Regions from separate parts of the Homo sapiens genome. Here region 2 is linked to region 1. The links come from fine-mapping of genetic effects on gene expression. A gene starts in region 1. The other region holds a variant in brackets. All regions are shown on one strand. Distances are from middle to middle.

Region 1 (2,912 bases):
TCTATGGTGGGGACTTTTATGTTATTTGACTTAATCCTCACAACAATTCTGAAAAATCTTTTTTCAAATTTTATGAGAAAGTGAACTGGATATTTAACTGATTTTCTCACGAATTCCTTCTGAGGCTCAGAAGTGTGAAAGAAGCCCAAATGACCAAGGTTCTTTAACAATTTGGTCAAAACAGGTCATAGACCCAGAGGAAGGTCTGGATCCTGGAAGTTTTCTTAAGCAAAGACAGTGCTTGTTGTGGATATGAAGATGTTGACTAAGCTGGGCACAGTGGCTCACACCTGTAATCCCAGCTTTGGGAGGCCAAGGCAGGTGGATCACCTGAGATCAGGAGTTCGAGACCAGCCTGACCAACATGGTGAAATCCTGTCTCTAGTAAAAATACAAAAATTAGACAGGCATGGTGGTGGGCACCCATAGTCCCAGCTACTGGGGAGGCTGAGGCAGGAGAATCACTTGAACCTGGGAGGTGGAGGTTACAGTGAGCTGAGACTGCACCATTGCACTCCAGCCTGAGCAACAAGAGCAAAAAACTCCATCTCAAAAAAAAAAAAAGATGTTGACCAAATGGCAGACTCTTGCCATGAAGCAAGCCCAGACCTCAGTGCCAAGAGATGTGAATTAGATTCCTGCCTCTTCCACAGACTAGACATGTGACTGGGGGCAGATTCCTTCAGCAATATCACCTCATTTGGAGAAGAACTGGACTAAAATACCCTCCAAGTAGTTTATGAGTTATTTAAATCTCCCAGGCTTAGGTTTGCTCCTCTCTTAGGGGATAGCCTTGCCACCCTTCAGGAAATGGAGACTGTATATGGAGCATGTTGTGCCGCCAGCTGCTGCATGTCCCAGAGCCATCTTAAACCCTACCCTTCTGAACAATGGCTAGTCTACAAGAAGCCTTAAAAGGGATGTGAAAGTGGCAACAGTGTCCCCTCAACAACAAATACTTCCCCAAATATGAGCTTGTGTGGAGCCTGATGACTCTGCCTCTGAGGCCAATCCACTGGCATCTTTCCCAAGATGTGCCTGGACTTCCCTGAGCATGAGGCCAAAGATGGAGAATGGAAACACCCAAAAGAAGTAACAAGGAGACACGGAATTTTCCACAGGTTGCTTTCAGCTTACCAAGAGCCTGGAAAGTGAGAGAATAGATTCTCCAAAATTCAAAACTAACATTACTATTATCAATATTTATTGTCTACTTTTTGTAAACTCTTTGCATCTTTTTTCTTTAATTCTCCCAACACCCACAGAGTGGAATTATTATTATCCATCCACCATTTATTTAATAGACAAGAAAACTCAGGCTAAGCAAAACTAGATGACTTAAATAATTCTATGTAGGAGTAGGGAAAATGAATTTTAACTGGGACCGTACAAATCACTAGTCTGCACAAAGGTCTTTTTCTCATGTGTCACTTCTATCTTGTGTCATTTTGCCAGACCTCAGAATTTAGAAAGAGGAAGCAGAGGCACTTTTTATATATCAACTGTCTGTAACTACAGCAAAATTCACATCCTGTGTAATCATAAATACTGCTCTAAGAAAGGGACAGGAAGTCTCAGAGGCTGGAGAGCAGAGCACCAAGATCGTTCTGGCAGGAACAGCCAGTGGGAGGTTCCAGCTGAGCGCTCCCCAGAGGTGAGCTGATCCCCAGCCACAGCACACAGGACCAGGCTGCGAGAACAGGTAGACACCTTGGTTTAGATCATGACTTTTGGGGAAGATTGTGTGCTTTTGAAAAGACAGCCAGGGAATTGGATTATCATCCTGTCTCTGATTCTGACCACCTGTGTGAGTTGGAGCGTCAGCTCAGTCCCCTTTTTGGGTCTCAGTTTACTCACTTGTCAAATAAGAAAATTGGGTAAAACCATTCTTAGGTTTCCCTCATTGAGGTGATTTTCCTCAATGTTCTGCATTCTCCTGGTGTGTCACTCAGTCTTACAGAGTCTACTCTCAACAAATACTGTGCAATTAGACTGAATCTTGCATTAGAACCCCATGGTCCTACTCTAATTCTGTAATACAGAAAATTGCTGGGCAGAGCTGTTGACCTCCATGTCATGATTTATCTTCAAAGCACGGATTTTAGAGCTGTCTTGAAAGCTGTGGGTCCCTCCAGTCTATCTCCTCAAGGCGAATGTGGAAGGACAAAGCATCCTCTCAGACTGTGGTGTTTGGAGATGATAGCATCAGTCTGGAGACTTTTGTGAAACATAAAGAATCTTGGTTATATAGGATTCCTTCTAAAAGTAGCAACGTGTATCTAAATTCAAGTGTCATAGATTTAAATGTAATAATTCCACTTCCATACATCACTGTGAGATAATTAAATGCAGGAGGTATCACAAAAGTGCAAAGATGTTCATTATTGCATTGTTCATAGTGGCAAAAAGAAAAAATAGAAACCACCTAAATAGTCATGAACATGTGATTGATTAAATGAATCTAGAGACCTCCATTTATTTAAATATACCATTTGGCTTTTTGGTTGTAGTAAAATATGCTTAAAATAATTGTAGCCTTTTAACCATGTGTTTTTTTGTTGTTTTTTGTTTGTTTGTTTGTTTGTTTTTTAATTGAGAAAGAGTTTTGCTCAGTCACCCAGGCTAGAGTGCGTGATCTCGGCTTACTGCAACCACTGTCTTCCAGGTTCAAGCGATTCTCCCATCTCAGCCTCCTGAGTAGCTGGGATTACAGGCACTCACCATCATGCCTGGCTAATTTTTGTATTTTTTTAGTAGAGACGGGGTTTCACCATGTTGGCCACGCTGGTCTTGAATTCCTGACCTCAGGTGATCTGCCCGCCTCGGCCTCCCAAAGTGCTAGGATTACAGGCATGAGCCGCTGCACCCAGCCTTAACCATTTTTAGGTGTACAGTTCAGTGGCATTAAGCAC
Region 2 (2,912 bases), 57 kb after region 1:
ATAGACATTACACCAGGCATTGTGGAAGAGAAAAATAAACACATTATAACTCCCACCTTTAGGAATTCACAGGAGCACAAGAGATAAAACATACACAAATCAGTATGATACAAATATAAATCTAAAAAAAAAAGGTACAGCAGTATGGCTGTAGTTTATAGCCCTATATGTACATTAGAATCACAGTGGTGTGTTTTTACAGTTCTTGATTTGGTTTTAACAGGCTGAACTTCCGATAAAGCATGATAAGATTGAAAAGGGGCATTTATTTTAGCTGCCTTCAAAATACCACTAAGATTAGTGTAAAAGAATGTAAAAGGTTTGATCCACATGGAGAGAAAAAGAGAGTTACCAAACACACACAAAAATTGCTGAGGAAATTGAAAACCCACCATCTAAGGCAAAGCAGGGGGAAGTCATATTAGAAGATATTTCTTACAGCAGAGCCTAAGAAATACTTAATATTTGAATGCACCAGGTCCACAGAAAGCAGGACTAAAGAGCAGAAAATAGGGAGACTGATTTTGGTAATGGTTAAGTATGGCTATGTGGATTAACTCTTCTCTGAAAACAGAAGTCTTTTTATTAAAAAACAAAACAACCTTAAAGACATTAAAAAGCTGAAAGGTCAGCTGGAACTACTAGATCAATTTTTAGATGAAAGCCTGCAACCTGAAATTTACAAGTGGAACTCTGAAGAGCATGAAAGCTACTTATGCCTTCAGACCCATTTGCCAGTGATGCTTATTTGGAATCCAATCCCTGGCCCATGTGGACTGAAAGAGAAAGAAGTCAAGGTTTCACATCCACTCAAAGTATAAAGACTTAAGAGAGATTTTCTCCGTATTAAACTAGGTCTTTGATAGGCTACTACGCTCTTCAGGTAAGGGCAAAAAGATATACAACGTACCCTGCCCCAAAATAGCAAAGTCGCTGAACAAAGTTTAAAAAGGAAAAGTATTTGAGAAGTGTGGCCACAAGCCAAACAAACCCCTTGACAACCTCCTTGCACGCCCCAATCCCCACTGACCTTTGCTAGGCATAAACTGGATAAGGCAAGAATGTTTTACCTGAATTTGGTCTTGGTATGTGGTGCCCCTGGTACCTGGCAGAAGCAAAACCGAAGTCTATCTAGGAGAAAAACATTCATTAATCTTAATAAATTCCCATCAAATTTTCCATTGAAAATTAACAGTAAGCACTCAAAAGAGGCCTAAAAAGAAATAAGACAATGCGAATAACAACTAATAGAAACAGAACATAGCAAAAAAAAAATCACCTGTAAATTTCTGATACTAAGTATATTAGAAGAGATTTTAAAACCACAATATTTATCATGTTTTAAGAAATAAATGAGGGGGGAGGAGCCAAGATGGCCAAATAGGAACAGCTCCGGTCTACAGCTCCCAGCGTGAGAGACGCAGAAGACGGGTGATTTCTGCATTTCCATCTGAGGTACCCGGTTCATCTCACTAGGGAGTGCCAGACAGTGGGCGCAGGTCAGTGGGTGCGTGCACCCTGCGCGAGCCGAAGCAGGGCGAGGCATTGCCTCACTTGGGAAGCGCAAGGGGTCAGGGAGTTCCCTTTCTGAGTCAAAGAAAGGGGTGACGGACGGCACCTAGAAAATCGGGTCACTCCCACCCGAATACTGCGCTTTTCCGACGGGCTTAAAAAA[C/T]GGCGCACCACGAGATTATATCCCGCACCTGGCTCGGAGGGTCCTATGCCCACGGAGTCTCGCTGATTGCTAGCACAGCAGTCTGAGATCAAACTGCAAGGCGGCAGCAAGGCTGGGGGAGGGGCGCCCGCCATTGCCCAGGCTTGCTTAGGTATACAAAGCAGCTGGGAAGCTCCAACTGGGTGGATCCCACGACAGCTCAAGGAGGCCTGCCTGCCTCTGTAGGCTCCACCTCTGGGGGCAGGGCACAGACAAACAAAAAGACAGCAGTAACCTCTGCAGACTTAAATGTCCCTGTCTGACAGCTTTGAAGAGAGCAGTGGTTCTCCCAGCTGGAGATCTGAGAACGGGCAGACTGCCTCCTCAAGTGGGTCCCTGACCCCTGACCCCCGAGCAGCCTAACTGGGAGGCACCCCCCAGCAGGGGCACACTGACACCTCACACGGCAGAGTACTCCAACAGACCTGCAGCTGAGGGTCCTCTCTGTTAGAAGGAAAACTAACAAACAGAAAGGACATCCACACCAAAAACCCATCTGTACATCACCATCATCAAAGACCAAAAGTAGATAAAACCACAAAGATGGGGAAAAAACAGAACAGAAAAACTGGAAACTCTAAAAAGCAGAGTGCCACTCCTCCTCCAAAGGAATGCAGTTCCTCACCAGCAACGGAACAAAGCTGGATGGAGAATGACTTTGACGAGTTGAGAGGAGGCTTCAGACGATCAAATTACTCTGAGCTATGGGAGGACATTCAAACCAAAGGCAAAGAGGTTGAAAACTTTGAAAAAAATTTAGAAGAATGTATAACTAGAATAACCAATACAGAGAAGTGCTTAAAGGAGCTGATGGAGCTGAAAACCAAGGCTCGAGAACTACGTGAAGAACGCAGAAGCCTCAGGAGTCGATGCGATCAACTGGAAGAAAGGGTATCAGCGATGGAAGATGAAATGAATGAAATGAAGCGAGAAGGGAAGTTTAGAGAAAAAAGAATAAAAAGAAATGAGCAAAGCCTCCAAGAAATATGGGACTATGTGAAAAGACCAACTCTACATCTGATTGGTGTACCTAAAAGTGATGGGGAGAATGGAACCAAGTTGGAAAACACTCTGCAGGATATTATCCAGGAGAACTTCCCCAATCTAGCAAGGCAGGCCAACGTTCAGATTCAGGAAATACAGAGAACGCCACAAAGATACTCCTCGAGAAAAGCAACTCCAAGACACATAATTGTGA

Which allele goes with the higher level. Alleles are on the strand shown, and positions count from the first base shown. SD is a standard deviation of normalised expression in the study named.
With allele C in place of T in region 2, the expression in monocytes of the gene that starts at base 1,570 in region 1 is higher (moderate effect, 0.62 SD a copy in CEDAR).

The links. PIP is the estimated chance that this variant, and not a neighbour inherited with it, causes the effect.
Region 2: its variant is fine-mapped to the expression of MS4A7 in monocytes (CEDAR, PIP 0.95).

Annotation. Positions count from the first base shown.
Region 1 is chr11:60,376,963-60,379,874 of GRCh38, forward strand. MS4A7 (membrane spanning 4-domains A7) reads left to right here and starts at 1,570. Exons shown (of 7, transcript NM_021201.5): 1 at 1,570-1,702. RefSeq lists enhancers at 602-841, 1,522-1,571.
Region 2 is chr11:60,434,061-60,436,972 of GRCh38, forward strand. The region is part of intron 4 of MS4A5 (membrane spanning 4-domains A5); the gene reads left to right. Among named protein-coding and RNA genes, the nearest start is that of MS4A5, 5.9 kb to the left of the region's middle. The variant C/T (reference allele first, on the strand shown) is at 1,676.